Homo sapiens: one gene and its partners. The protein of the gene in region 6 purifies or fractionates together with the protein of the main gene of each other region. This does not show direct contact. Each region holds a gene or a part of one and is shown on either strand. Other genes may lie near its edges. The genes, in order: MRPL45, SLFN11, CTSB, HBS1L, GMPS and SPDYE4.

The links.
Region 1: the proteins of SPDYE4 (region 6) and MRPL45 purify together in Homo sapiens (affinity purification with mass spectrometry, with the first as the bait; one large-scale study listed by BioGRID). This does not show direct contact.
Region 2: the proteins of SPDYE4 (region 6) and SLFN11 purify together in Homo sapiens (affinity purification with mass spectrometry; one large-scale study listed by BioGRID and IntAct). This does not show direct contact.
Region 3: the proteins of SPDYE4 (region 6) and CTSB purify together in Homo sapiens (affinity purification with mass spectrometry; one large-scale study listed by BioGRID and IntAct). This does not show direct contact.
Region 4: the proteins of SPDYE4 (region 6) and HBS1L purify together in Homo sapiens (affinity purification with mass spectrometry; one large-scale study listed by BioGRID and IntAct). This does not show direct contact.
Region 5: the proteins of SPDYE4 (region 6) and GMPS purify together in Homo sapiens (affinity purification with mass spectrometry; one large-scale study listed by BioGRID and IntAct). This does not show direct contact.

What each region holds. Positions count from the first base shown.
Region 1 is NC_000017.11:38,299,294-38,304,986, reverse strand, and holds part of MRPL45 (large ribosomal subunit protein mL45), read right to left. Parts: intron 5,637-5,693; coding exon 5,519-5,636; intron 1-5,518.
Region 2 is NC_000017.11:35,348,733-35,354,334, reverse strand, and holds the end of SLFN11 (schlafen family member 11), read left to right. Parts: intron 1-275; coding exon 276-999; intron 1,000-1,195; coding exon 1,196-1,979; 3' UTR 1,980-4,030; downstream 4,031-5,602. UniProt on the Homo sapiens protein: Inhibitor of DNA replication that promotes cell death in response to DNA damage. Acts as a guardian of the genome by killing cells with defective replication.
Region 3 is NC_000008.11:11,857,620-11,861,587, reverse strand, and holds part of CTSB (cathepsin B isoform 1 preproprotein), read left to right. Parts: intron 1-108; exon of another isoform or gene 109-227; intron 228-3,647; exon of another isoform or gene 3,648-3,730; intron 3,731-3,968. UniProt on the Homo sapiens protein: Thiol protease which is believed to participate in intracellular degradation and turnover of proteins. Cleaves matrix extracellular phosphoglycoprotein MEPE. Involved in the solubilization of cross-linked TG/thyroglobulin in the thyroid follicle lumen.
Region 4 is NC_000006.12:134,980,640-134,986,332, reverse strand, and holds part of HBS1L (HBS1-like protein), read left to right. Parts: intron 1-149; coding exon 150-267; intron 268-923; coding exon 924-992; intron 993-3,770; coding exon 3,771-3,875; intron 3,876-5,693. UniProt on the Homo sapiens protein: GTPase component of the Pelota-HBS1L complex, a complex that recognizes stalled ribosomes and triggers the No-Go Decay (NGD) pathway.
Region 5 is NC_000003.12:155,875,845-155,881,537, reverse strand, and holds part of GMPS (GMP synthase [glutamine-hydrolyzing]), read right to left. Parts: intron 1-5,693. UniProt on the Homo sapiens protein: Catalyzes the conversion of xanthine monophosphate (XMP) to GMP in the presence of glutamine and ATP through an adenyl-XMP intermediate.
Region 6 is NC_000017.11:8,751,856-8,756,645, reverse strand, and holds part of SPDYE4 (speedy protein E4), read left to right. Parts: intron 1-209; coding exon 210-268; intron 269-1,040; coding exon 1,041-1,126; intron 1,127-3,156; coding exon 3,157-3,325; intron 3,326-3,448; coding exon 3,449-3,508; 3' UTR 3,509-3,552; intron 3,553-4,408; 3' UTR 4,409-4,790.

The DNA of each region.
Region 1 (5,693 bases), about 30 Mb from region 6:
TAGTTCCAGCTACTCGGGAGACTGAGGCAGAAGAATCACTTGAACCCAGGAGGCAGAGGTTGCAGTGAGCTGAGATCCTGCCACTGCACTCCAGCCTGGGTGACAGAGCGAGACTTCGTCTCAAAAAAAAAAAAAAGGAAGTTACGGCCGGGCGCAGTGACTCAGGTCTGTAATCCCAGCACTTTGGGAGGCCAAGGTGGGCTGATCACAAGGTCAGGAGTTCGAGACTGGCCTGGCCAATATGGTGAAACCCTGTCTTTACTAAAAATACAAAAATTAGCTGGGCGTGGTGGCAGGCGCCCGTAGTCCCAGCTACTCAGGAGACTGAGGCAGGAAAATTGTTTGAACCCAAGAGGCAGAGGTTGTAGTAAGTCAAGATCGCGCCACTGCAATCCAGCCTGGGCGAAAGAGTGAGACTCCGTCTCAAAAAAAAAATAAAATAAAAAGTAATTACAAAGACAACAGAGCAGTGCTTTTATTATTCATTCACTCATTCATTCATTCATTCACTGAGACAGGGTCTCACTCTGTCACCCAGGCTAGAGTACAGTGACGCCATCAGGGCTCACTGCAGCCTTGACCTCTGGGACTCATGCAATCCTCCCACTTCAGACTCCCAAGTAACTGGAACTGCAGGTGTGCACTACCACGCTTGGCTAATTTTCACTTTTTTTTAGTTTTTGTAGAGACAAGGTCTCACTGTGTTGCCCAGCTGGTATTCAACTCCTGCTCAAGTGATCCTCCTGCCTCAGCCTCCCAAAGTGTTGAGATTACAGGCATGACCCACCATGCCCAGACTTTGAGCAGTACTTTTAATTGAGGAAAAAATTATTTCTATCACAGAATTAAATACCTGGGCAAATTATAAATGAAGTGGGAGAATAAAATATTTCTTTTTAGACTTGCAAGATCTTATTTATCCACCATGCAGCCTTTCTCAGGCAGCTGCTAGAAAATGTGCTCCACCAAAGTAATGAAATAGACTATGAAAACATAAAGACATAGGATCCAAGCAACAGGGAATACAACGTAAGAGGGAGGCAATCAGCCTGACCAACATGGTGAAACCCCATTTCTACTAAAAATACAAAAATTAGCTGGGCGTGGTGGCGCACACCTGTAATCCCAGCTACTCAGGAGACTGAGGCAGGAGAATCGCTTGAACCCGGGAGGCGGAAGTTGCAGTGAGCTGAGATCGCACCACTGCACTCCAGCCTGGGCAACAGAGCAAGACTCAGTCTCAAAAAAAAAAGAAAAGAAGACGGAGGCAAGAGGAATCTTAGATCCTAAGACGTACAGTTGGCCTTAAGAGCAACTAGTCCAGATTAAAACAGGTAAGAAGACTCCAGGAGGGATTTCTTGAAAAAGATGAAATTAATAAAATATTTAATGTTGCAGGGCGTGGTGGCTCACACCTGTAATCCTAGCACTTTGGGAGGCTGAGGCAGGTAGATAATGAGGTCAGGAGTTCGAGACCAGCCTGGCCAATATGGTGAAACCCCGTCTGTACTAAAAATACAAAACAGCCAGGTGTGGTGGCACACACCTGTAGTCCCACCTACTGGGGAGGCTAACACAGAAGAATTGCTTGAACCCAGGAGGCAGAGGTTGCAGTGAGCCAAGATCATACCATTGCACTCCAGCCTGGGCAACAGAGTGAGACTCCCTCTCAAAAAAAAAAAAAAAAAAAAAAAAATTTAATGTTTTGAATGCACAGAGAGGAAATTACATAACCCATAGTTCCATAAGCAAATGAGCAAATTAAGACACTACACTTCAGGAAAAAAAAATATATTATGCAGGAAAGAAAAAGTGTTCATAATGTACTATATAACTCAGCTGTCAACAGCATTTTCCAAGTTATAACAATATAGAGAATTTGATTTAATCAAAGTATTAATTTAAGTGTGTTAAAGGAATTTATCCCAGGGATGTGAGGTTGGTTTAATATTTGAAAATCAATTAATAAGGCTGGGCACGGTGCCTCACGCCTGTAATGCCAGCACTTTGGGAGGTCAGGAAGGTGGATCACCTGAGGTCAGGAGTCCAGGCTGGCTAACATGGTGAAACCCTGTCTCTACTAAAAATACAAAAATCAGTGGGGCATGGTGGCGCACACCTGTAGTCTCAGCTACTCGGGAGGCTGAGGCAGGAGAATCACTTGAACCTGGGAGGCAGAGGCTGCAGTGGGCCGAGATGGAGCCACTGCACTCCAGCCTGGGTAACAGAGCAAGACTCCATCTCAAAAAAAAAGAAGAAAAGAAAAGAAAATCAATTAATATGTCATCATATCAACAGAATAAAGAACAAGTATCACATGATCATCTCAATAGACACAAAAAAGCATTTGACAAAATCTGACACCCCTTTATACTCTTTTAACCTCAAAGCCTTGCTTGTACTGTTCTGTTTCCCTAGAATGCTATTCCTCACCACACTTCTCCACCTGGCTAACTCTAAAAAAAAAAAAAAAAAACAAACTTTTTTTTTTTTTTTTTTTGAGATGGAGTCTCACTCTGTTGCCCAGGCTGGAATGCAGTGGTGCAATCTGGGCTCACTGCAACCTCCACCTCCTGGGTTCAACCGATTCTCCTGCCTCAGCCTTCCGAGTAGCTGAGATTACAGGTATGTGCCACCATGCTTGGCTAAATTTTGTATCTTTAGTAGAGATGGGATCTCACCATGTTGGCCAGGCTGGTCTCGAACTCCCGACCTCTCAGGTGATCCACCAGCCTTGGCTTCCCAAAGTGCTGGGATTACAGTTGTGAGCCACCTCATCCAGCCACAATCCCAACTTTAAATATCATTTCCTCAGGCAAGTCTTCTCTGATCTCCCAGACCAAGTTATCTTTTTTTTTTTTTTTTTTTTTGAGACGGAGTCTTGCTCTGTCGCCCAGGCTGGAGTGCAGTGGTGCAATCTCGGCTCACTGCAAGCTCTGCCTCCTGAGTTCACACCATTCTCCGGCCTCAGCCTCCTGAGTAGCTGGGACTACAGGCGCCCACCACCGCACCTGGCTAATTTTTTGTATTTTTAGTAGAGACGGGGTTTCCCTGTGTTAGCCAGGATGGTCTCGATCTCCTGACCTCGTGATCCACCCGCCTCGTCATCCCAAAGCGCTGGGATTACAGGCGTGAGCCACCTCGCCCGGCCATTATCTTTCCCTGTCATATGCTCCCATGGCACTCCTACTTCACTACACCTATAATTATTTGTGTGCGATCAGTATTTAATGACTGTTTTCCTCCCCTAGAAGAGAACTGCATGGTAAAACCGTATGTGCTTTGTTCATCATCACCATGGACCCTGCTCACAGTCCAGGAGAGAAATACATGAGAGGAAACATTGCAGTACAGAGTATTAGGAGAAATAAATACAAGTGTGCAATTACAATCACAGCAAAGGCAGCACCAAAAATAGTCATGGAGGCCTTAGAAACAAACATGATAGCCCAGCGTGGTGGCTCACGCCTGTAATCCCAGCACTTTGGGAGGCCTGAGTCTGGCGGATCACCTGAGGTCGGGAGTTCAAGACCAGCCTGACCAACATGGAGAAACCCCATCTCTATTAAAAATACAAAATTAGCCAGACGTGGTGGCACATGCCTGTAATCCCAGCTACTCGGGAGCTGAGGCAGGAGAATCGCTTCAACCCAGAAGGCAGAGGTTGTGGTGAGCCGAGATTGCACCACTGCACTCCAGCCTGGGCAACAAGAGTAAAACTCCATCTCAAAAAAAGAAGAAAAAAAAAGTAGGAGGGGAAAAAGACATTTCAGGCAAAGGAAAGGATGTGCAAAGACAAAGAGGAATGGTACAGTACTGGCAAGGAATTGGCAATTAGTTTGGAAATGCTAAAATTTAGGATGAGAAAAATGGAATAAGGACAAAGAATGATGGTGGAGAAAAAGGCAAGGACCAGATTATAAAAGCTTTGTATACCACTGAAGATATCTGGATTTTATTCTTTGGTTAACAGGAAGCCATAAAAGAGTTCTAAGCAGGGAGGTAATATGATAAAATCTTTTTTATTATTATTTTTTTTTGAGACAGAGTTTCGCCCTTGTTGCCCAGGCTGGAGTGCAATGGCACGATCTCGGCTCACCGCAACCTCCGCCTCCCGGGTTCAAGCGATTCTCCTGCCTCAGCCTCCTGAGTAGCTGGGATTACAGGCATGTGCCACCACGCCCGGCTAATTTTGCATTTTTAGTAGAGATGAGGTTTCTCCATGTTGGTCGGGCTGGTTTTCGATTCCTGACCTCAGGTGATCCGCCCACCTCAGCCTCCCAAAGTGCTGGGATTACAGACGTGAGCCACCGCACCCAGCCAATAAAATCTATATGTAGAGAAATAAGTCATGGCCATGTGAAGAATTCATACTGACTCAATATACTTATGCACATAAACCTATACATGATTTACATATAGTGACAGCGGCTACTCTGGGCACAGTGGCCTATGGGGTAGCCCTGCTCTGCAATGAACAGTACAAATTTAAAAAAAAAGATAGATACAGTCAGAGCTAGACTGGCTGGGTGTGACGGGTCACACCTGTAATCCCAGAATTTTGGGAGGCTGAGGTGGGAGGACTGCTTGAGCCCAGGAGTTCGAGACCAGCCTGGGCAACATAGTGATAACCCGTCTCTACAAAAATTTCTTTTAAAAATTAGCCAGGTCGGCTGGGCGCAGTGGCTCACGCCTGTAATCCCAGCACTTCAGGAGGCTGAGGTGGGTGGATCACGAGGTCAAGAGATCGAGACCATCTTGGCCAACATGGTGAAACCCCGTCTTTACTAAAAATACAAAAATTAGCTGGGCGTGGTGGCATGCGTCTGTAGTCCAGCTACTCGGGAGGCTGAGGCAGGAGAATCTCTTGAACCCGGGAGGCAGAGGTTGCAGTGAGTTAAGAGTGAAACTCCGTCTCAAAATAAATAAATAAATAAATAAATAAAGGGCTGGGCGTGGTGGCTCTCACCTGTAATCCCAGCACTTTGGGAGGCCAAGGCGGGCCTCCTGAGGTCAGGAGTTCAAGACCAGCCTGACCAACAGACCAACATGGAGAAACCACATCTCTACTAAAAATACAAAATTAGCCGGGCATGGTGGCACATGCCTGTAATCCCAGCTACTCAGGAGGCTGAGGCAGGAGGATCATTTGAATCCAGGAGGCGGAGGTTGCGGTGAGCCAAGATCGTGCCATTGCATTCTAGTCTGGGCAACAAGAGCGAAACTCCATCTCAAAAAAAAAAAAATTAAATATATGATTAAAAAAGGATCCTATACACTCCAAAGTCAACTCCCTAACTGATATGACAAAAATTACCAATAAAGGCAGGGATGCTGAGAATCAGGAAGCCCACATTATTCTGCATTAAATACAGACTCTAGTACAAAGGAGAAAATACCATCATGTTATTAAGAGAATGACACCCAACCCAATTAACCCAAAAAGGTCTCTTTGGGATAAAGTAGCAACAAAAAATTGTTATTCTAATACCAATACCCAATTGTCTCAGACACCTACGACACTTGTGATGCCATAGTCTTCTTCATTCGTTCAGTTCTCTCTATCAGTCCCTCCTTTGAAAGAGATGATATGCGTGCATCACCCTCAGGAGGAACATAGGCATCAAATATACCAGCTGTAATAAAGGAAGAAAAAAATTAAGAAAGTGTTGAAAGATTGAGAAAAACTCATA
Region 2 (5,602 bases), about 27 Mb from region 6:
ATTCTTAGTTTTGTTTTACAGATGAGACAGCAAAGTCTTAGGCTAAGGAATTTCCCAAGGTTATAAGTTGTAAAAAACACATGGGTTTAGATGAAGTATACCAGATATTCCAAGGGTTCTTTTCCTTTATAACTATAATATAATAATATTTATAAAATAGTATTTGAAACTTCTATAAGTAATCATTTAGTTAATCAATTAGTTAATTATAATTAGTCATCTTAATCAATAGGGTTATTTCTCTTCCTCTAATTTATCATTCTTTTCACATACAGTCCCACCAGGATATTTGCGATATACTCCAGAGTCACTCTGGAGGGACCTGATCTCAGAGCACAGAGGACTAGAGGAGTTAATAAATAAGCAAATGCAACCTTTCTTTCGGGGAATTTTGATCTTCTCTAGAAGTTGGGCTGTGGACCTGAACTTGCAGGAGAAGCCAGGAGTCATCTGTGATGCTCTGCTGATAGCACAGAACAGCACCCCCATTCTCTACACCATTCTCAGGGAGCAAGATGCAGAGGGCCAGGACTACTGCACTCGCACCGCCTTTACTTTGAAGCAGAAGCTAGTGAACATGGGGGGCTACACCGGGAAGGTGTGTGTCAGGGCCAAGGTCCTCTGCCTGAGTCCTGAGAGCAGCGCAGAGGCCTTGGAGGCTGCAGTGTCTCCGATGGATTACCCTGCGTCCTATAGCCTTGCAGGCACCCAGCACATGGAAGCCCTGCTGCAGTCCCTCGTGATTGTCTTACTCGGCTTCAGGTCTCTCTTGAGTGACCAGCTCGGCTGTGAGGTTTTAAATCTGCTCACAGCCCAGCAGTATGAGATATTCTCCAGAAGCCTCCGCAAGAACAGAGAGTTGTTTGTCCACGGCTTACCTGGCTCAGGGAAGACCATCATGGCCATGAAGATCATGGAGAAGATCAGGAATGTGTTTCACTGTGAGGCACACAGAATTCTCTACGTTTGTGAAAACCAGCCTCTGAGGAACTTTATCAGGTAAGCAGTTGGATCTTACGTCTCTAAGTATTATTTAATCTGGGTTTAATTTTTTCTGCTAAGTCACCGTCTTTCTTGAGAATTGAGTGGTAAAATGATCTGTGGTAATGTACTGTGCTCGGAGGAACATGATACAATTATTTTCTCCCCTTGTTTTTTTAGAGAAAACCTGAGTGTGTTCTTTTAATTTTTACAGTGATAGAAATATCTGCCGAGCAGAGACCCGGAAAACTTTCCTAAGAGAAAACTTTGAACACATTCAACACATCGTCATTGACGAAGCTCAGAATTTCCGTACTGAAGATGGGGACTGGTATGGGAAGGCAAAAAGCATCACTCGGAGAGCAAAGGGTGGCCCAGGAATTCTCTGGATCTTTCTGGATTACTTTCAGACCAGCCACTTGGATTGCAGTGGCCTCCCTCCTCTCTCAGACCAATATCCAAGAGAAGAGCTCACCAGAATAGTTCGCAATGCAGATCCAATAGCCAAGTACTTACAAAAAGAAATGCAAGTAATTAGAAGTAATCCTTCATTTAACATCCCCACTGGGTGCCTCGAGGTATTTCCTGAAGCCGAATGGTCCCAGGGTGTTCAGGGAACCTTACGAATTAAGAAATACTTGACTGTGGAGCAAATAATGACCTGTGTGGCAGACACGTGCAGGCGCTTCTTTGATAGGGGCTATTCTCCAAAGGATGTTGCTGTGCTTGTCAGCACCGCAAAAGAAGTGGAGCACTATAAGTATGAGCTCTTGAAAGCAATGAGGAAGAAAAGGGTGGTGCAGCTCAGTGATGCATGTGATATGTTGGGTGATCACATTGTGTTGGACAGTGTTCGGCGATTCTCAGGCCTGGAAAGGAGCATAGTGTTTGGGATCCATCCAAGGACAGCTGACCCAGCTATCTTACCCAATGTTCTGATCTGTCTGGCTTCCAGGGCAAAACAACACCTGTATATTTTTCCGTGGGGTGGCCATTAGGAAGAACTCCAAATCAAAATGCTATGTAAATGTCTATGGGTGACAGTCTGCTGATGGTAGAAACCTTTCTTTTTAGTTCACAAGTCAGAGATTTGGACGGAGCTGACACAAAGAGTTTGGAGCTCCCCCATTTCTGGCTCTCCTTTCAGGGGTTCCTTCCCCAACCCTTTCAGCAGCGGTGGCTGCCCCCCATTCTGACCCCTGACTCTTCCAGCCAGAAAGATGGTGGTTTTCTAAAGGAACTTTAGCTGTCCTGCACAATGCCGATCTGTGTCTTGCATTTTGGGTAAAAGCCATAAAAATAAGAAACTCAGCCTGTGGCCTTTCTTTCTTCCAAGGCTGGGCTTCTTTTTTTAAGTGACTTCATGCAGTTTGTTGCTTTTAAAAATTTGTCCAGAATCGTTTTCTGCAGAAGCATGGTCTGTTAGGAGCTTACTGGCCGTAGCAGAAGCAATTGTTTCCTGAATTCTTGACATTTATCTTTGCTGTATTCATTTAGGGCTTGGGAGAGTCCGAAGATAATTCAGTCACTGTCAGATTAATAATTTTGTCAGGACAAAGAATACCGTTATGATTATTTAATCCTTTAAAATTGTGGTCTCCAGAGCTTGTTCTCAGAATGGCCCAGACCAAGCCTTAATTGTGATAGTGAATATTAATGGTCACTTTAAGGAGAAATTATAGGCCAAGATGAAATGAACATAAACCTGTTTGCCCTGGCTTTCAGTGGAAGATGATATTAGAGACCAAAATCTGGTTCTGAAGGTGTGTATCAGCCCTAAGGTGAACCAGACTTGGGAAAGATTGTCTTTAAAAATCAATGAGTTTATGTTTTAACTTCTCAGCTTAGTTCTATGCATTGCTCTATAACACACCTAGTTAAGTTTTATGTTATTCTTGAACTGTGATTTTTTTTCTATTTACTTTCATGGTTTGGTGGGCCATTGTTATGGACTGAATGTTTGTGTCCCACCCTTCACCCCCAAATTCCCGTGTTGAAGCCCCAACCTGCACTGTGGAGCTGGGGCTGCTAAGGAAGTAATTAAGGTTACATGAAGTCATGGTGGGGCTCTGATCTGCTAAGGTTGGTGTCCTTATAGGGAGAGACCCCAGAGAGCTTGTTCCCTCCCTCCCTGTGCATGCAAACAAGAGGGCATGGGAGCACACAGAGAGATGGCAGCCACCTACAAGCCAAGAGGAGAAGCCTCACAATCAAACTCTCGCTGCTGGCGAGAGTCTTGGACTCTGTCTTGGACTTCCAGCCTCCAGACTGTGAGAAACAAATTTCTGTTGTTTCAGCTTCTCAGTCTCTGGTGTTTTGTTATTGCAGCCTGAGAACACAGCTGTACGATTATTTGTCAAACAGAAAACACTGATACTTAACAATGCTAATGCAATTATTTATTTGCTTTTCAGTCTCTACAAAACGTTCTAAAACACTAATCTAAATATTAACAGTAAAATATTTGCATAACTAATGGAAACTAAGAAATCATATGACCAATATTTCACTTATTGGTAATCTTACTCTACTGATTTCCCCCCAGACTGTGATTTTTGAACTTCCTTGCCTTTCTCCTGTCTTTCTGTGTTTATTCATGGAATTCCAGTTATCTGGGCTTGAAATTGCAGGCTCTCCTAACTTAAGCAAAATCTGACAGATCAGCAAAATGAGATAAATGTTTCTTTTTTCTTTCTGACTGCATTAAATCAGATACAACTCAGCATTAAAAAGCTATCTTTGTAAATGTTGTTACTAATAAATTAGTCTTATAAGATCCCTGGACTTTGGAGTTGTTGCAATGTCTTTGAGAGTAATTCTTTAAAAGTCTAATTTCGACTGGTTGTATCTCTTTATGATTTATTGCCCCACTAACAATATTTGAAACAATATAATATTTTAAAATGTATAAATAATTATGAATTTTTGTTTAGAACAAAGAGGATTACTGATATTTGTTTCCCTATGAATGGCAAAAGGTTTAGCTTACTACTGCATTTCTGTTTTAAATAAAAAGTTGAGAGTTTGTGTCTCATTAAACTGAAAAAAATGGTCTTGTAAAATAAGTGCTTAAATGGGGGAAAAGGAGAAGACTGAGGCCAGTGACTCTGTGAGAGGGCCAAAACGAGCCAGTAAAAGATTAAGCAACATTAACTTTCAATTTTTTTTTTAAGAGACAAGATCTCACTATGTTGCCCAGGTTGGAATGCAGTAGTGCAATCATAGCTCACTATAGCCTCGAACTCCTGGGCTCAAGTGATCCTCCTGCCTCAGCCTCCGAAATTGCTGGGATTATAGGCATGAGCCAGTGCACTAGACTCAGTTGGGTTTGGATGGGTGCCTGCCCATCTCTGCAATCTGCCTCTAGACATCTGGGACCTACTTCACTAAAGATCTGAAAATCTACCCAGCCATTATAAAATGAAACAAAATGTTTTTATATTTTAAATTAACTTTTTATTTTAGAGTAGTTATAGAATTACAGAAAAAGTTACAAAGATAGTACAGAAAGTTCCTGTGTCCCCTTCATTTAGTTTCCTCTTTATTTTATTTTATTTTATTTTATTTTATTTTATTTTATTTTATTTTATTTTATTTTGACAAGGTCTTGCTCTCTCACCCAGGTTGGAGTACAGTTGGGTGATCACAGCTCACTGCAGCCTTTAACTCCTGGACTCCAGTGATCCTCTCACCCCAACTAGCTGAGAAGCTGGAACTGCAGGTGCATGCCACTACACCTGGCTATTTTTTTAAAAAAATTTTGTAGAGGACGGGGTCTTATTATGTTGCCCAGGCTGGTCTCAAACTCCCAGGCTCAAGCATTCCTCCTGCGTGGGCTTCCTACAGTGCTGGGATTACAAGTGTGAGCCATTGCAGTGGCTATTTCCCTGTTTTATTACTGTATTGTTGTGATGCATTCATCACAACTAAGGAACCAACCTTACTTAGTACATGACTATTAACTAAACCCCACATTTTATTTGGATTCTCCAGTTTTTTTTTTTTTTTTTTTTTTTTTTTTGAGACGGAGTCTTGCTCTGTCGCCCAGGCTGGAGTGCAGTGGCATGATCTCGGCTCACTGCAAGCTCTGCCTCCGGGGTTCACGCCATTCTCCTGCCTCAGCCTCCCGAGTAGCTGGGACTACAGGCGCCCGTCACCACACCTGGCTAATTTTTTGTATTTTTTTAGTAGAGACCGGGTTTCACCGTATTAGCCAGGATGGTCTCGATCTCCTGACCTTGTGATCCGCCCTCCTCGGCCTCCCAAAGTGCTGGGATTACAGGCATGAACCACTGCACCCGGCCTGGATTCTCTAGTTTTTCTCTAATGTCTTTGCCTACTCCAGGATCCCATCCAGGACACCATACTACATTTAGTGGTCATGTTTCCTTACACTCCTCTGACCTGTGATGCTTTATTTTTGATGACCTGGACAGTTCTGAGGAGTACTGGTCAGGTATCTACAAATAAAATGTCCTTCAGTTTGGGTTTGTCTGATTTTTTTCTCAGACTGGGGTTATAGGTTTTCAAGAGGAAGACCACAGGAATGAAGAGGTATTCTCATCACATCACATCAAGGGTATATGCTATCAACATGCCTTATCACTCATGATATCAACCT
Region 3 (3,968 bases), on a different chromosome or scaffold from region 6:
AACTGCTGAGGGCCTTCGTAGTGTCTGCTGTTTCAAGTGTACAGTAGTCATTTTGTCTGCAGGATGTGGGGTTGCTGTGGCTGACCTTGTACAATATTCCACTCATAGGTGTCTTCAGGCCTATGGAGAGCAGCTTGCGTGGGCTGGGCCTGCAGTACCTGGTTTGCATAGATGATTGGCAGGTGGGCAGCACGGGGAAGGACCTGTGAGTGGCCAACCTGGTTCAGGTGAGGGAGGTGGAGTGGGGCTTCTCTGCTTCCCCTGGTTCCCTGGAAGCCTCCAAGGCTGGTGAGCATCACTGCTGCCTCTGCACACCTGTGTGCTGGGTGGGTTTTCTGACAGGTTTTCAGTTGCTTCGGGGCTACAGCTGCAGGGAGCCTGCTCCATGGGACAGATGGGCCTCTGGTGCCCGTTCATCAGGGGACTGATGAGACCGAGGCCTGAGAGCCCTTTGGATTTTGTTTTTGTCCTTAATTTAATCATAAGCCAAGAATCTACTAAACACAGTTCCATTAGGGGCAAAGACGTAACACATCAGAGGCCACAGCAAGGCTGTGATTCATACTCAAAAAGGAAAGGTCTCTGGGTCACAACAGAGCATAGTTGAGGTCAGCACACTCCCACCCAGTGCAGGGCTGCTCCAGCATTGAGGTGTGTCTGGCAGGTTGAAGTAGGGGAAGATGAAACTCGCCGAAGTCTTGTTTTGTGGTTGCACTTAAGTGGTCAAAACTTCAGGAGCAACTGCCGTTATTAGCGGTGAGTGCCAAGACTAGTTTTTATAGAAGAGAAAGAAACAAAGTACTCTGGGAAGGTCTTACTGAGCCTTCACAGTCTCCCCACCTTTCCACTGTTCCCGTGCTCTTAGCCGCTCTGCTGGCCTATAAGGCACAGTCTTCATTTGTGGCTTCTGGCAAAATGTAAGCACTTGACTTTTGTTTTTGTTTTGTTTTGTTTTGTTTTTTTGAGACGGAGTTTCCCTCTTGTTGCCCAAGGTGGAGTGCAATGGTGCGATCTCAGCCCACTGCAGCCTCCACCTCCTGGGTTCAAGCAATTGTCCTGCTTCAGCCTCCCGAGTAGTTGGGATTATAGGTGCACAACCACCACGCCTGGCTAATTTTTTGTATTTTTAGTAGAAATGGGATTTCACCATGTTAGCCAGGCTGGTCTCGAACTCCTGACCTCAGGTGATCCACCTCCTTGGCCTCCCAAAGTGCTGGGATTACAGGTGTGTGCCACTGTGCCCGGCCAACTTTCAATTCTTTAGAGCTGACTATGAGAGGAGCCAGCAGTATAGCCACAGCACCAACGAATGAGGAAGAGCAAAATACTGCATGACAGCTTTGCTAAGAATTCTTTCACTTTTTTTGTCTATCAGCCAGGAGCTAGCAACTTGGCTTATTTGGAAATTTTAAGTGTACATATCCTGTCTCCTTAAATCCTTTACAGATTTAAAGTGCAGTCTACCTGAGGGCTCTGTGACCATGTAAGAAAGCTTTTTCTTTCTTTTTTTTTCTCTGAGACAGAGTGTTGCTCTGTCGCCCAGGCTGGAGTGCAGTGGTGTGATCTTGGCTCACTGCAACCTCTGCCTCCTGGGTTCAAGCAATTTTCCTGCCTCAGCTTCCTGAGTAGCTGGGACTACAGGCAGCACCACCATGCCCGGCTGAGTTTTGTATTTTTAGTAGAGACAGGGTTTCACCATGTTGGCCAGGCTGGTCTTGAACTCCTGACCTCGTGATCCGCCTGCCTCAGCCTCCCAAAGTGCTGGGATTACATGCGTGAGCCATTGTGTCCGGCCTTTTTTTTTTTTTTTTTTTTTTTTTGAGACAGAGTCTCGCTCTGTTGCCCAGGCTGGAGTGCAGTGGTGTGACCTCAGCTTACTGCAACCTCCGCTTCCTGGATTCAAGTGATTCTCCTGCCTCAGCCTCCCAAGTAGGTGGGATTACAGGCACCCACCACCGTGCCTGGCTAATTTTTGTATTTTTAGTAGAGACAGGAGTTTCACCTTGTTTAGTAGAGACAGGCTGGTCTCGAACTCCTGACCTCAGGTGATCCGCCTGCCTTGACCTCCCAAAGCGCTGGGATTACAGGCATGAGCCACTGTGCCTGGCCAGAAAGCCTTCTTTATTGAGCTTGGTGGCAGCCCAAAACTGATTCTTTAAGGGTGTCAGGACTTAACACCTCCTGTGACTTAGCCGCACCTCCTCTCCTTTGACTTTCATTCCACCTCCTTCCAGGATCGCAAGGTCCCTATTTGTCCTGGAAACGGCTTCAAGGTAGTCTAGGGTGCCGTTTGCCGGGGGAGGAAGGTGCTCTGGTTGATAGAGTCGCCTGGCCGCACACTCTTTTTGGCACATAACAACGTTCTACAGAGCCGGGGTGGAGCGTGCTTTCTCATAAGTGCTCTGCAGGTTTGGAGAGAGAGGATATGAGGAGCACCCTTTTCTGTTTTTTTTAACCCAAAGATTAGCTTGGAAAAGGGGCAGAGGGGTGCACTGGAACTCAGGTCTGCCTAAGCAGCACAGCAGACCAAGGTCTAGAGATGACATCTGCTCGCAGCTGTTCTTCCACCAGCCCGCATCCTGGAAAGGGGTCTTGTGGCACACAAGAGTTCACATCCTTCCCTCGTGAAATAAGGACTTTGTGTTCATCATCTCTTGTAAGAAGCAGAGCAGAAAGCACAGAATTAAGAAATAAAAGGGAAGTGGGTGCCTATATAAAGGGAAGTGAAAATGGGTTGCTGTCCCATGCAAAGACCCTGGAAAGCTGTTAACAGCTCAGCTTGTCACTTTCACCATCTGCATTTGTCCAGAGTGATTGAGATTTGCGTTGTTGTGGAGAGAAAGGCGCCTGTTGCACAATGGAGTGAGATTGCCACTGCTGTCAGGACCTCTGTGTTTGGCTTGACACTTTTTGAGTTCTCAGCAGTCTCGGGACCCTCAAGAGTGGAAGCATTTTTGGATGTTAAATGCTGGGGTTAATTGAAGTTAAGAGCTTGTTTTACTGGGCATGGTGGCTCACACCTATAATCCCGACACTTTGGGAGGCCAAGGCGGGCAGATCACTTGAGTCCAGGAGTTTGAGACCAGCCTGGGCAACATAGCAAAACCCCATCTCTACAAAAAATACAAAGCTGGGCGTAGTGGTGTATGCCTGTAGTCCCAGCTCCTTAGGAGGCTGAGGGGAGCAGATCTCTTGAGCCCAGGAGGCAGAGTTTGCAGTGAGCCATGATCGTGCCACTGCACTCCAGCCTGGGCAACAGAGTGAGATCCTGTCTTAAAACAAACAAAAAAAACAAACTTGTTTTCATTTAGACTCTTCCTGGCGTTGGGGACCTATTGGAATAGGTTTAGTGTGAACTGAGAGCTAGAAGTGTTAGAGGAGAGAGGGAGGGAACAGAGCCCGCTGGAGCGAGTGCCCTTCCTACCTTATCACTGCATGCCAGGCATGTGCCGGCGCTTTGGTCCTCCTCATTTCATTCTTGACTGCCACCTGAGACACGATGGTTACTAGCTCCATTTTATAGGTGGTGAAACTGAGGCTTGGGGAAGGTCAGACCCCAAGGGTGCCATTTAGTCAGTGGCAGAGCCAGATCCAAATGCAGGTCTCCTGACTCCAAGTGCAGGGCTCATTTTATCGTCCGGTTGCAGCACGCTGGCGGCCCCTTGAGCCCCAACCTGGATACCATAGGGGAGGAGCAGAGAAGCCAGGAACACCACAGCCCTGGGCCAAGGTGCGGGGCTGAAAGAACTTCCCAGCGCTCAGCCTGGGACTAGTGGAATGGGCTGGGCCCTGGGGCTGGCAGCGGTGGCCCCGGGGAGCCTGGGAATGAGTAGGGAGCACAGGGAGGTGTGGGAGGGCCTGGGAACCATGAAAAGGAGGGCGGGTGCAGGGAAGTCGCCTGCTAGTGAAGTGGCGAGGGGGCCCTGTGGGACTCCAGGGAATGGCCACGGCAGGTTGTCCTCCAGGAG
Region 4 (5,693 bases), on a different chromosome or scaffold from region 6:
TAACTTTGGGGCTGTAGTTCTGTGATTTCTATTATGTTTTAAAAAGTACATTGTTGCTTTTGCAAACTTGGTGCAGTTATGGTAATGGTGAATCTTTTAATGTTTTAAAAAATGTTGTATTAAGTTTCATAAGTCAATCTTTTTAATAGGAGAGTGATGTAGGTTTTATTCCTACAAGTGGTCTCAGTGGTGAAAATCTAATCACAAGATCTCAGTCAAGTGAACTCACAAAATGGTATAAAGGACTATGTTTATTAGAACAAATTGGTAAGTATACTGCCATTCTAGCTTTAATGCATTATAAACTTGGTATTAATTATTATTTAGAGTTCTTTATGGGAGAGAGTCACACGTATGAAAAAGCATAGGATTTGTAGTCGGAGGAACTAAGTTACCTGTTTTGTCATCATGTGCAATACTTAACCTGTCTAGTGCTCAGTTTTCCTCAGTTTATGAGGCTAGTGCCTGGTTTACATATCTTATAGACTGTTGTTAAAATTAAATGAGATTAACATTCATTTTATAAGCTGCAACTATTACTTGGTTGAATGTCCCTTATCCGAAATGCTTGGGACCCAAAGTGTTTGGGGTCTGAAATTTTTTTTTTGGATTTTGGAATATTTACATTATACTTATTAGTTGAACAGCCCAAATTCAGAAATCTGAAATCCAAAATGCTCCAATGAGCATTTCCTTTGAGCATTATATCAGTGCTCAAAAAGTTTCAGATTTTGGAGCATTTCAGATTTCAGAATTTTGGATTTGGGATGCTCAATGTGTATATTAGTGACAGTTAAGTTGCTATTAGTAATTATAAAAAGTAGTTATTTTCTAGGAGAAGTGGGATTATAATGAGTTTATTGAAGTGAGTCAAAAATTTAATTTTAAATTAAACCTTGCCTTTTGCAATTTCTTTTTTCCAGATTCCTTTAAGCCTCCCCAGCGATCTATTGACAAACCTTTTAGATTATGTGTGTCCGATGTTTTCAAAGGTAAGTGCTACCTTTGTAGTGCTTCTTCAGTATAGCCCCTTTTCCCCATTCCCTCCTAACCTCCTTTCCTGGACTAAGTTATGACAGTATATTGCCTTCAGAGTCTCTCCTCTCCATGCCCAAGTAAGGATCACTGTCAGATTAATCTTAAAATGCACAGATTTAGTCACTTAGCTTCCCTGTCCAGGAAAACCTTCAGTTTACTCACCATTTCTCATCTTTCAAGCATAAGAAAACCTTGCCTTTTGTCTTTCTAACTTTATAGTTTTTTTTTCTCCCATTAGATTCCTTTAGTTTTCAAATCCTTCAACCAAACTGGATTGTTTATTGTTTCTTAACCACACAGGATGTGTTTATTGCCACATGTCTACCCGTGCTTCCCTGTTGTATTGTTCTTTCTCTTTACTTGTCCATTTCCTCCCCATCTGTAACAGTCTGGGTCCAGTTAGGAGTTAGATACCATACATAGGTGAAATGGGAAATGTAATATAAAGAATTATTAACTATGATAAAAATGCAACTAAAAGATATACAGAAACTTTATAGATAGGGCTGAGGAAGGACCAACGTAGAAGAGGTTCAGAGCTTGCTGGAAGAGATGATATATTAAATACCTAAGAATATATCTAACTTAATAAGGGCAAGATCCTATATAGAAGACTATAAAGTGGAAATACAATTTAAAAACTCAATAAATAAAAGGATATAAGATTTATTATTACAATAATAAAAACTGTAAGGATGTCATTTGTCCTCTAAATCTCCATTGTCACAGAGCCAGCAATGCAGAGTGAATGTGGAACTGAGCAGCAGTAAATTGGTAACCGGCGTGCTTACCTGCGCACATGCCCTGACGCGTCCCTCTGTATTCTCTGTATCCTCTGTCATTGTGCTTTCATGCAGCATTATAATTTTTTCTATGCTGTCTGTTTATCCCACTTAGATTATGAACTCCTTGAAGGCAAGTACTATCTCTTCTTTATCTATATCTGCGGCCCTAGCCCAGTGCCTGGCACATAATACATTTAACACATGAATAAAAAAATGAATGAATGAAGGTGCTTTGAAAAAATCATGCAATGAAATCAAAATTTATCATTATCATTATTAGCTTCCAGTGTTCTAGTAATAGAGGAAATATGCTAATAGTTTCCAAGATGCCCATTGTTTATCAAGAATACAAGAGGTGGTTACTTTTCTTTGATTAACAGTGTTTGCTGACTGTACTTTCTCACCTTCTGTTCCCCCTTCAGGCTGCTTCCTGGCTTCCGCCTACGCTGCTCTCCTGAGTGTGTTCCTCCTGAGGTCATGAAATGACCTCTTGGTTGCCAAAGTCAATATACACTTTCAATTCTATCTTACTTGAATTTGGCATTGGTTCTGATGCTGGTAGCCACATCCACCTTGAAACTCCTCCCTTGGTTTCTGTGACCTGCTTTCTCCTGTTAACCTGTCTATTTCTCTGACCTGTCTATCTCTGACCTCTCTATATCTTCTCTATGGGCTCCTCATTCTCTGTCTTTTAAACAGTGTTCTGCTGCCTCAGTCCTCTTCTTAGTCTTCAAGTTCCTTTTGAACTGACATCCATGAGTGTCTCTACCTTCTGCATCTTGATGCTTCCCAAATCTGTATCTCCAACCCAAACCTTTTCACTCATTCTCCACACACTTGTCTAAGCACTACTGGACATCTCTCCTGGGAGAGTGTTCTTTTAGGGGTACCATTCTCATGGAATGTGGTGTGATTGGTCCCCCCGGAATGCAACTTCTGCATGTGTGTGTCTCATAGACACTTCAGATTTACCAAGCCTAAAATGGATCTTGTCCTTAGTTTCATATCTCACAGTTAATGCATCATCATCTCACATTTTCCCCTTTCTGTCATTAGTCTTCACTTTCCTTACCACTCCAAACTTGTTATTCCTTATTCCCGAATTCTTGAGTTTATTCCCTTTCTGTAGTAAGTTTGTGCATTTGTATCAGCCTCTACTCTAAGACAGAAATACCATCACCTTACTTCTCCGGTCACAATATTTACTGGCTTCCTATTACTTAACTGCAGGATGAAATTTAAACCCTAAGCGTGATTTATGAGACCCCTTTATTATTTCTCCCTTGCCTATCTCTGTTGCCTCCTGTCTTACCTTTTCTTCATTATTCTATATGGTCCCCTCCCCATGGCCCCCACAAGTGACACATGACTCTTAGCCCATCCCACATTTGGTTATGCCTTTGCCCACACAGTTTCCTGGGGCAGCAGTGTCTTCCTTTTTCTCCCTACTCATGCATACAAGCTACCTAATAAACACTTATTCCTTCTTCAGAGTGCCAGATGTCTATTCTCACCATCATGGATTCTTTGGTGCACCTTTGTGTTTCTATTGTATATTTTACATATTATTTGTCTCAGGACAATGTAATTGTTTCCATCTTTCTCTTCACTAGTATAATATCTTTATGGGCAGGGACTTACATTTTTATTTTTTTTTATCCCCAGAGTTTAGTATAATATCTGGTACTACGTATTTATTATTTCTCAATAAATATTTGAGAAAGGAATGAACCTTTCTTTGGTAATATGAGTATTTTTATTTGCAAAAAAAAAAAGTAAAGTGTGGTATGCCATATTTAGTAGAGATGTTAATTCTGAAATGATTATTATTTAATGTCCATTGAACTACTAGTTTTATATGACTACTTGAGAACTAAGTATAGTTAACGGTATTAATCATCAGATAACATTGCTGTATGAACCATAAGATTTTGGTATGTTTTGCAGATCAAGGATCTGGATTTTGCATAACTGGTAAAATAGAAGCTGGTTATATCCAAACTGGTGACCGACTACTGGCAATGCCTCCTAATGAAACTTGTACCGTGAAAGGTATTTATCTGCAAGATGCTTTTGCTAAACAAGCCTTAAGTTGAGACAGCAGATTTTTAAAAAGTGGTTTAGTTACAACTCCAAAGTAAGTAACCTCTTACTGAAATTGTAACTGACTGTCAAAATGATACTGACTGTTGAAGATTAAAATGTGAAAACATTAAACGATTTTTTTCTGTTGTGATTGTGTCTGTATATATATGTACATAAACATTCTAACTGTAGTAGCATTCTATTTTTGACACAGATCTGAGAAGCCTGGTTAGGATTTAATCAGATATGTATAGATACCTCACAGATGTATTTGGAATAATATTCTGTAGCAGAAATTAAATCTAGTCCCAGCCTTACCCTAACTAGTCAGTGGCAAAGCAGCCTTCTACAGTCTGTTACTTTGAAATGTATGTTTCAGAATAACTATAAATTAACAGCTTTGATCATGTTTATGCCAAAAATGTAGGTATATTTTATAGGAAGATATAAGTAACATTCAAATGGAGAAAAACCCAATGTTGAAAAGAGAAATTGAACTAGTTTAAATTGCCAGTCACTGTTTCTGCATATAGATCTAATTTTTTTCATAATGACTGATAATTGTTTCTGTCTTCTAATATATACACACATATATATATTTATGTATATGTATACATGTTATATGTTACATGTACATGTATATTATTTTCCAGATTTTGACTAAAACTTTCTAATTCTATACCTCTTTTATTCTGGCTTCCAACTAAGCCTCTGACTTCTGAAGATCTGTTTTATACTATAAAATAATATTATTTGTAACCATTTTAAGCTGAAGTATAACCTATTGGAAATGCAAAAATTTTTTAGATTTTAGTATTTTTCCCTCTGTTACTCTTAATTTATAGTTTATATCTAGAGTTGTACCTGACTAGTTTATCAATTTGAATGTATATTTTTCTTGAATTCATATGCTCTCTTTAAAAGAAGATTTCTTGAAAAGTTTAAGAAATTAATATCTATTGAAGTTACATGGTTTAACCTATATTTAAAGATGAATAAGGGAATGAAAATCAGTTATTTCCATTTGACCTTTTTATTTGTGCCCACTAGAGATCATGAAATTTCAGTTTTGATAAAAAGTAATATGCACTTTAAAAATAGTGTCATTTTCTATAGATCTGTTCATTGTGTGCAAGTACAGGTCTCTGCTTTTGTTTTTTAAAGTGACAAGAGCTATAATACTTTTGAAACACGATTTTTTTGGTATGTTAATGATCTTTTTTGAGAACAAGAATTTTTTTATGATTAAGAGCCATAAATTAAAACCATGATCCTAAAGTTATCACAGACCTTGAGGTTGGCTCCCTTGTAACCTCTAAAATCCTTAGTCATCTCTGAAAGTCTCACATTCTTTACCCTCCTCTTCTCTGTACTTTCCACACAGAGAAACTCTAAAGTATTATCTTTTATCAGTGTAAGTCTTATCAGAAGCCCCAGGGAAGAACCACCCTACTTCTTGAGAGCCAGTCTTTTAACTCAACAGAGAGGTTCTCCTTCCTCCATTCTAACCTTACTGCTTTTGCTTGGTTTACTTGATTCTTGAAAGCACTGTTCTGTCTAAACATTTTTAGGTACTACTGTGGCTCTTTAACCAGTACTGTCCCAAAAGAAAGACTTGACTGAATCTACTACCAACAAATAGAAATTCTAAATTACTTTTTTTTTTTTACTTTATTAACATATCAAGCTCATAGAGTATTAAAAAAGAGCCTCTTTTTGTAATGTTTGTCCAATGAGAAAAGTTTTTTGATAAATGTCATATGTGGAACAGTGTAACATGATTGA
Region 5 (5,693 bases), on a different chromosome or scaffold from region 6:
TCATCATATGCCTTTGTGAAGATGTTTCTACCACCAGCTTAAGTAACATTTAAAAAACTAATATCAAGCCAGGAGCAGTGGCTCACGCCTGTAACCCCAGCACTTTGGGAAGCCAAGGAGGGCAGATCACCTAAGGTTGGGAGTTTGAGACCAGCCTGACCAACATGGAGAAACCCTGTCTGTACTAAAAATACAAAATTAGCCGGGCATGGTGGCACACGCCTGTAATCCCAGCTACTTGGGAGGCTGAAGCAGGAGAATCGCTTGAACCCGGGATGCAGAGGTTGTGGTGAGCCGAGATCATGCCATTGCATTCCGCCCTGGGCAACAATAGCAAAACTCCGTCTCAAAAAAAAAAAAAAAAAAAAAAAAACTAATATCAAAGCATCCATAGCAGGCTCTTAATTATTAACATACTTTGTCAAAACATCACATTGTACCCCATAAATATATACAATAAATATTAATAACATATTTTGATTCTGCCTTTGCTAACAGAAATACATAAGAATGTAAGTAAAACTGTACCAAATGTCTATAATTATGGTCATCTCTCGGTGACTTTGTCTTTATGATAAACATTACACTGATTCTTTGGCTTTAGACATTAAAATACAAACGCACACTTATTTTTTTCTTTTTAATAAGAGGGTAACTAATGAAGGAAAGACATCAGAGAAAAGAAACCACTGAGAAGCACTATTAACCTCTAGAGAGCCAGACGTGGTTAACCCAAGATGTACCACCTTAGGCAAGATAATATGCCTAACAGACAAACCGACAGAGATTTTCTTAATAACTGAAAAAAGTTTTAACTTAAAAATACTGCACCAATACCAAGTTTGCATTTTTTAAAAACAACTTTGTTAAATCCAGAGTGCTTCTGATTCTATTTATTGTTCAAGGGAATGTTGTGAGTGACAGAAATGTTCTATATCTTGATTGGGGTGATGGTTACATGAGTACATATATATGTCAAAACTCAACTACATACTTAAAGATCTATGCACTTCACTGCATGTACATTTTACCACAATAAAAACAAGCAAAACAAAACACCTATTAGTGAGTTTTTTAAACTACCACCTCTCTCCACAAACTGACACTAAAGATACAAAACTGATACAAAAAGATACTACCACAATGAGCAACTGTTACCCTCAGCCTTCAGGGGCACTCATGGTCAAGCTCTGCCATGGTCAATAACAAGGCCAACAATCATCCAAATCTAAGAGCCAGTCTGTTAAAAAACCCTAAGTCAGATTAAACCCACCTTAGAAAAGATACAAAAATTATCTCAAAATGAAACAAAGACATAAATAAGAGCAAAAACTACAAAACTTTTATAAGAAAACATAGGTAATTACACAAATCTTTGTGATATGTATTGAATGAGGCCAACAGTTTTTTAGATGACACCAAAAACAAAAGTGACAAAAGAAGAAATAAATTAAGCCTCAAAATTAAAGGTTTTGGTGCTTCAAAGAACACCATTAAGAAAGTGTAAAAAGATAATCTACAGAATGGCAGAAAATAATCGCAAATCATATTGATAAGAAACATCTCTAGACTTAAAAAAAAAAAACTCTTAAAACTCAATAAAAAAGAAAAATAATCCAATTTTAAAATGGGCAAAAGAATTAGCTGGGCATGGTGGCAGGCGCCTGAAATCCCAGCTACTCAGGAGGCTGAGGCAGGAGAATTGCTTGAACCCAGGAGGTGGAGGTTGCAGTGAGCTGAGATCACACCACTGCACTCCAGCCCGGGGAACAGTGCGAGACTCCGCCTCAAAAAAAAAAAAAAAAAAGGGCAAAAAAGACCTGAACAGACATTTCTCCAAAGAAAATACAGAAATGGCCAATAAGCACATGAAAAAATGCACATAACCAGTCATTAGGGAAATGCAAATCATAGCCAAAATGAGATCCCACTTCACAGCTACTCTGATGGCTATAATCAAAAAGACAAGTGGGTCAGGCGTGGTAGCTCATGCCTGTAATCCCAGCACTTTGAGAGGCCAAGGCAGGCAGATCACCTGAGATCAGGAGTTCGAGGCCAGCCTGACCAACGTGGGAAAACTTCAACTCTACTAAAAGTACAAAAATTAGCCAGTGTGGTGGCGCATGCCTGTAATCCCAGCTACTTGGGAGGCTGAGGTGGGAGAATCGTTTGAACTGGGGAGGTGGAGGTTGCAGTGAGCTGAGATAGCACCACTGCAGTCCAGCCTGGGCGACAGAGACTCTGTCTCAGGAAAAAAAAAAAAAAAAAAAAAGACAAGTGCAGAAAAGGATGTGGAGAAATTGTGATGGCTAATTTCAGGTACGAACTTGACCAGACTAATAATACCCAGATAGCTAGTAAAGGATTATTTCTGGGTATGTCTCTGAGGGTGTTTCCAGGAGAGACTGGCATTTGAATCAGTAGACACAGAAAGGAAGATCCACCCTCATCCAATGTGAGCAGGCATTATCCAATAGCTGAGGCTAGGGCAGAACAAAGTCAAGGCAGGGGAAAGTCAAATTATCTCCCTTCTGGAGCTAGGACACCTTCTGCCCTTGTATATAAGAATTTCAGGATATGGCCTTCGGATTCCAGGACTTGCACCAGCAGCCACTCTCCCATCACCCTCCCCCCATCCCTCTCCCACCAAGGTTCTCAGGCCTTCAGACTCACACTGAGAATTACACCATGGACTCCCGATTCTCAGGTCTTTGGACTTACACTAAGTAATGCTACCAGCTTGGTAGGTTCTCCAGCCTGCAGACAGTCTATCGTGGGACTTCTCAGCCTCCATAATCGCGTCAGCCAATTCCCCTAACAAATTTCCTCTCATATATCTCTCTATATATATATCTATTATCTATTTCTCTATCTATAGCCTACTGTTTTTCTGGAGAATCCTGACATAAACTGCCACACAGCAGACAAAAATATAAAATGTTGCAGCTGCTTTGGAAAACAGTCTGACAGTTCACTAAAAGGTTAAACGGAGTCACTCTATGACCCAGAAATTCCACTCCTAGGTTTATACTCAAGAGCATGAAAACTTTTGTCTAGATAAAAACTTATACAGAAATGTCCATGGCAGCATTATTCATAATATTCAGAGTGAAAACAACCCAATGTTCATCAACTGATAAGTGGATAAATATAAGGTGGTATACATACAATGGAATATTAGCAGGTAATAAAAAGGAATAAAGTACTTATACATGCTACAAGATGAACCTTGAAAGCATTATGCTAAGTGAAAGCCACAAAACACCATATATTTTAAGATTCTAGTCACAAAATGTCCAAAATAGGTGCTACGGTCTGAATGTTTGTGTCCCCCTAAAATTCATATGTTGAAACCTAATCACCAATGTGATAATATTAAGAGGTGAGGTCTTTGGGAGGTGGTTAGAGCATGAGGGCAGAGCCCACACGGATAGGATTAGTACCCTTATAAAAGAGGCCCTAGGGGCTGGGCACGGTGGCTCATGCCTGTAATTCTAACACTTTGGGAGGCCAAGGCAGGCGGATCACCTGAGGTCAGGAGCTCATGACCAGCCTGGTCAACATAGCAAAACCCCGTTGCTACTAAAAATACAAAAATTAGCTGGGCATGGTGGCGCATGCCCAGCTACTCGGGAGGCTGAAGAAGAAGAATGGCTTGAATCCAGGAGGTGGAGGTTGCAGTGAGCTGAGATCGCGCCACTGTACTAGCGAGACTCTGTCTCAAAAAAAAAAAAAAAAAAGGCCCCAAGGTGAGGACACAGCATCAAGCACTTCTATGACCCAGGAAGTGGGCCCTCACCAGGCACTGAATCTGCAGGTCCCTTGATTTTGAACTTCTCAGCGTTCAGAATTGTGAGAAATTTTTGTTGTTCATAAGCCACTCAGTTTCTGGTATTTTGTTTTAGCGGCCCCAACAGACTAAGACAATTGGCAAATCTACAGACAGAAAATGAATTTGTGGTTGACTAGGACTGGGAGGGAGCGGTGGTTGCAGGAAAATGGGGACCCTTGCTGAAGGGTAGAGGTTTTTTTTTGGGAGGAGGGATGAGAATGTTTTTTTGACTGTACAAATGGGGGGTGATGGTTGTACAAATCTGTGAATACACTAAGAACTATGGGGTTGGATACTTTAAGCAGAGTACATGGTATGTCAATTATATCTCAATAAAGCTGTTATAAAAATTTTTTTAGGAAAAGTAAATGGTAGAATCCAGATTGAGGACATGGATGTTGACTAAAATTTCTTTTAATTTGCTTGCCAAATAATAAGTATAATGAAGTTCTACTGCTACCAATAACATCAAAATAATGATATATCTACAGGTACTTTTGTTCATCTAAAATTTCCCAAATTAATCAGAGATCGTTGATCCAAAATTTGTCCAAAGCAGAATTTTAGAAATCTGGAGTCCTAAATTTACATTCATAATAGGATTCAGAAGAATTACTGAGACTCGTTCTCCAAATTGCAAATGAGGTAGAAATTAAATTTACATGGACCGCTGTGAGTTTTGAGATTAAAAGGTTACTGTTTTTCCAGTGACAAACGGGAGTAACTAAACAGAAAACTTCACATGTCCAGGCAGCTTTAAAGGTTTGGGAAACATCCCTTGCAAGTGTTATGGCAGACTAGAGAAGATTATTTTACCTTAGGGTCAGGTTCAGTGCTGCTGGCTCACACCACTTTTAAAACACAGGTAATTAATGACACTCAGTTTTCAAGAATTTTAGAATAATACTCTTATTATATAATTAACTCAGAAAAATAATGCTAATGTATACACACTAGACTTAAATTTTAGCCAAATTTTAAATACACATCACTGGGGAGAAATCAGAGCCAAACTCAGAACAATATGTGCTCTATAAATGGAGTGACCATATGGTCCAGTCTGCCCAGGACTCTCCTGATGTACATCTGTTAGTCCGATATCCCACCCAGCTTAACATTTGTCTCAGATTTTTCTTTTTAACAACATACTATGAATAACTGCCTTAAAGTAAAATAGGACGGGTTTGTTAAACTTTCACCTTATATCTAATACCACCTTCGGCTATGGCTTTGTCTAGTGTTGTGTGGGTTGCAAGCATAGTAAACAGTTCTCATTTTTAACTTCTCGTTCAGTCTGAATGCCAAATACTGGTAACACATCCTTCCTTACTCTTTTCTAATAAAATCAAGTACTCTTGGACACAGGCAATTAAGGATAGCTAACTCTATCTAGTCTTGGGTGATGACAGGAGAAATATCTGAAGTTGCTATTCCTGCCGGCTACTCAGTGTACCTCCCAGTTGTGTTACAGCCACTCCTCACCTTGCAAGATGCACAGGAGCCTCGAGGCCATTATAAGCTGGGTCACTGGGAAATATGGGGTATTTGTGTAACACATGCAGGAAAGAGATGTTATATGTCCCTGTGTATAATGTACAGAAGACAGTAATCTGAACACTCTTGCCACAGGAGTTTTGCCATTTACTTACTAATTGTATTGTGTAAATCTACAATTTTTTTGTATGTAATATTTTATTTTGCAGCAATTATTATAAATTTAAATTTTCCACACCTTCTTTTTTTATGCTCATGTGCCCCAGTTTAGAGATCTTATTCCCTTTCACATTATAACAATCTTAATGAGTGTATAGACTTAACTATATAATCTCCTAGGTCCTCAAAACCATGAACCTGAAGCCAT
Region 6 (4,790 bases):
AGGCCTCCTTCGGCCTCTCCTCAGGGGAATCTCAGAGCGGGAGCCTCCCTCCTTGCCCAGTGAAAGTCCTTCTCTCCTCTCCCATCCACCTAAGCCTTGGCCACAATCCTGAGACTTCCCCCAGAGGGACACAGTTCTCCTCTCTGCTCTGCTGCTCCCACGGCAACCCTGTTCCACTTCTCACCCTGACACAGGCTCTCTTTTCACAGGGGATCCTGTCGTTCAAAAATTCCTGGCCTGGGACAAAGACCTGAGGGTGTCAGACAAGGTAAGGTTGTTCTCCACTCAACTGTGTTCCTGCTTTAACACACGTCCTGGGGAAGGGTGCAGCGTCTAAACCCACAGTTTCTCTCCTCTCTCCCTCTACCATCTCCCACCTGCTGATTCCATACTCTTGGGCGCCCACATTTTGATTTTTATTTTTTCAGAAACAGGGTCTCGTTCTGTTGCCCAGGCTGGAATGCAGTGTTGCCATCATAGCTCACTGCAGCCTCAGCCTCCTGGGCTCAAGTGATCCTCCCGCCTCGGCCTCTCCAATAGCTGGGACTCCAGGCGTGAGTCACCGCCCCCAGCTATTCTAGGTCTTCTCATAATTTGTCAGCATCTCCCTCGGGGCTCTGGTAGCCTGTTGCATAGTTGATGGGTGGCCCCTGCCTCTGCACAGGGTCCTTTGGAATCCAGGCCCTGGGCCAGTCTTGAAACTCCTGACCCCTATCCTCTCAGATCTTTGGGACAGTCCTTTGCCCCAGCTCACCAAGACCCTCCTGACATTAGCAGCCCTAGACACTCTCCCTCCAGTGATCCCACTGGAGCTCATCATCATGGGAGCATCACAGACCTCCCTCCCTCCGACTTCCCGGATTTGCAGCTGACTTTGAACACTCTCCACCCGCAAGCCCCCAATGAGCATAGTCACCCAACACTGAGGTTCCTTCTGTGATAGACAACCGCGCCCCAGCCCCTGTTCCCTTCTCTCCACCATCTTCCTCTTCCAGGATGTGACCAACCTTTCTCTCTCTCTACTCCCTTCTCTCCATCAGTATCTCCTGGCTATGGTCATAGCGTATTTTAGCCGTGCCGGCCTCTTCTCGTGGCAATACCAACGCATTCATTTCTTCCTGGCTCTGTGAGTAGTTTGCTTCTTCCCATCTGTCAATATCCAACACCCTGGGACAGTGGACGAAGTGGGATTCCAACCTTCCATCTATTTTTTTACCCTACTTCTCCTCTTTACTCTGTATATAAAAACGATAAGATTATACTATGGTGTTCTTAGTCTGTTCTTTCTAAAAACAAACACAAATGCAGTTGACAAATAGTAGAATCAAACAAAAGGAAACATAAACCCGTCCTAAGGGGAAAGGAAAGCCGTGGACACGACCCTGCTCCCCAAGCAAGCAGCCATTTCTGGTTCTCTCGTCTCTCTCCTTCCCATATCAACACCAAATGCAATTTTCCATCCTCCTTCTCCAGGTTCCCATGACAGAGGCAGAAATTCAGGTCGTCCTCGCATAACACAGATCCATCATCAAATACTCCCTGCTGGGCATTCCTGCGAGTCCTGCCCCAAGCCAGGGGGCTTCCTAGTGCTGCCTGAATAGCTTTCCAAAGCACAGCTCCCACCCCCCCTTCACTGCCCACCTGAACAACCTCCTTAGCTGATTTGTCTCTAAACGGAGGCCCGGGTCCACAGGGCTAATTCAACCCTCTCTGCAGTCCTTCTACCACCAAACCTGCCCACCATCTTCATCTTTCCTTGTTTGCTTTCGCCACTCCTTCCAAATGCCCTCCACTCCATTTTGATTTTGTGTTTTCTGTCTGGGTGTCCTGCACACATGTGGATCTGAAGGGAATGACCCATTCCTTAAAGTCAGTTCAACCCCACAGCCTTTGCAATGCCTCCCCTGATCTTCCAGCTTCTGCACGCCCACAGCACTTTAGTGACATCCTAGGATAATGTGACATTTTGGATTCGTTTATCTGCCCTCCTTTTCCCCAAACCCATCAGAGTAGACCCCTGTTGAAGGCAGGGTCTTGTCAAAATATCAAAGTTTTTTGTTTTTATCTTTACCGGACAGAGACTTGCTCTGTCCCTCAGGCTGGAGTGCAGTAGCCAGATCATAGCTCACCGCAGCCTCCATCTCCTAGGCTCTAGTGAAGCTCCCACCTCAGCCTCCTGAGTAGCTGGGACTACAGGTGCATGCCACCACATCTAGCCAGTTTTTATGATTTTTAGTAGAGATGACGTTTTGCTATGTCACCCAGGCTGTTCTGGAACTCCTGGGTTCTCACCTCAGCCTCTCAGAGTGCTGGTATTATAGACATGAGCCACCCAATCAGCCAAAATATCAAAGTATTCCTGAAACACTCAGCACAATTCTTTTCATTTTGCAAGTGCTCATGTTATATTGACTCTATGGAATAATTCATATGGCATTTGCCTATAAGATAAATCTTTCCTTCTTTCCTTCATTCATTCATGTATTCATTTATTCAACAAAACCTTATGAAGTTCATCATATGTGCCAGGGAATAGGAAGGATGGGAAGGGAGAGTTCACAGCAATGCTTGTTGAATTAATGCACCAAGATAAACAAAGCCCTCTAGTGGCCTTTTGGTAGGTGAGAGATGATTTACAGAAACACACCAGTCAGTTCCTGTCCTTGGGGGCACTTATGATGCACGGGGGAAGACAGGTGTGTGCATACATGACAAGGAAGGGGGGTGTGGGAGGAACAGGGATGGGGACTAGGATGAGGTGACGTCATCTGTCTTGTATAAGGATGGCAGGACACATCCTTAGCATAAGACTTGGGTTGTTTTTAAATTCAGAGGGGGTCTTGCCATATTACCCAGACTGGTCCCTAACTCCTGGCCTCCAGTGATCCTCCTGCCTGGACTCCCAAAGTGCTGGGATTCCAAGCAAGAGCCACCACTCCCAGCTACCACTTGGATCATCTCCTTCCTGAAGGTTTGAGAGGCACCCTTAGCAGGTCTCTGTCCAGCGGGGCCTCCTGAGGAAGGCAGGGCTCTCTGCAGGGCGGCTGTTGGTGCTGAGCTGAGGAAGGTCCCCTGCCCTCCTCTCTGAGAGGCTGCCCTCAGGCAGGGGTCCCTCCTGGTGGGGCCCCTGAGCAGCAACCTGATCTCTCTCCCCAGCTACCTGGCCAGTGACATGGAGGAGGACAACCAGGCCCCGAAACAAGACATCTTCTCCTTCCTCTACGGGAAGAACTACTCCCAGCGACCCTTGTTCCATAAGCTTCGATACCAGCTCCTCTGTTCCATGCGCTGGAGGACGTGGGTTTCCCCAGAGGAGATGGAGGAGGTAGGTGGGGCCATATGAGGAGGTGGGGGTGGGGAGGGATGGGGTGGACTGGAGGCTGGAGGAGGGCAGAGAGGGGGCTTCCTGGGGAATCCCTGGCTTCTCAAGTGGTGTGTGTTTTTCCAGATCCAGGCTTATGACCCAGAGCACTGGGTGTGGGCCCGAGATCGCACCCTCATTTCCTAGAGCTCCGGGGACATGGAGGCCTGAGGTCATCGGCCTGAGGGAAGGTACGTGTGTATCCTCCAGGGTAAAGGCAGAATATTCTCATCTATAAGAAAATCCAAGGAACTCAACTGCTTGATCCAGCTTCAAGCCTGGTCAACATGGCGACACCCCGTCTCCACAAAAATACAAAAATTAGCCGGGCGTCCTGGTGGGCGCCTCTAGTCCCCACTACTCAGGAGCCTGAGGCGGAAGGAACACCAGAGCCCCGGAGGTCGGGGCTGCAGTGAGCTGTGATTCTGCCACTGCACTCCAGCCGGGACGACAGAGTGACACTCTTTCTCAAAAATGAGAATACTACCTAGGTCCAGGGAGGTTCATTATGGTTGATACACTTGAGTTACTGATTTGAGGAAAGGATTCAGTGAAGATTTGGTTGACATCTTGTGCAGCTAACCACATTTAGGACCAAGCATTAGACTAAAACATGAGAGATTAAGGTTGGGGATTAGGAATCTGGTCTGCTGGTTCCTGAGGTTGTCGTGTTAGACATGTTTGTAGCATGGTTAAAAGTTTAGATCTTAAGCAATATAAAGGGCCCCAAGTGTGATGAAGTCCAAAGCCACGTCCTCCAAGGGTGCTCTACTCCCTGGGTGGAGCCACCCAAAGTCCTTGCTATGAAGCAGATCACTGGGGCTAACCTTGGGTATATTAAGTGATTTTTGGAGTCAAGCTCACCAAAGTGTGAGTACCAGAATCAAAAATGATGGTTCAGAATCAGGGTTTACAATAAAGGGTTAGAGATAAAATCAGATTTATATATTGCTCTGAACTCTAGTTAGGATTGATGTGGGATGGGAATAACCTTCCTATCTAGAGATCTCCCTCCTTGAAGTGTGACATCCTCTCTCTCACTTCCAGAACACTGGGCCCAGGGGAGATGGGAATTTTCAGCAGGAAGTTTATCGCGACGCTAATGCCAGACACCAGGAAGGGAGAGAGGAGCCTCCTGTGCAGATCATCTAGAAGAAGCTGGACTCTTCTAGAAGGGGCAAAATAGATTGACCAGGTTTTCCTCCTAGGAGCCATGGAGGTATTTCTAGGAGTCAGTGGAGGGAAAGTGAGAAACCAGGGGTGTTTCTGGTTCCACCCCTTCCTGCGGCAAAACCTCCCTTTTCACGTTGCTGAATCCCAGCCTCCCCTGGGCTGGAAGCTGGAGTTCCTGTTTCCTATGGACTTGGTTGCCACAGTCCAGAGCATTTGAAGGCACAGCGCAGGCACTCAGATTGTTACGGAATTCTTT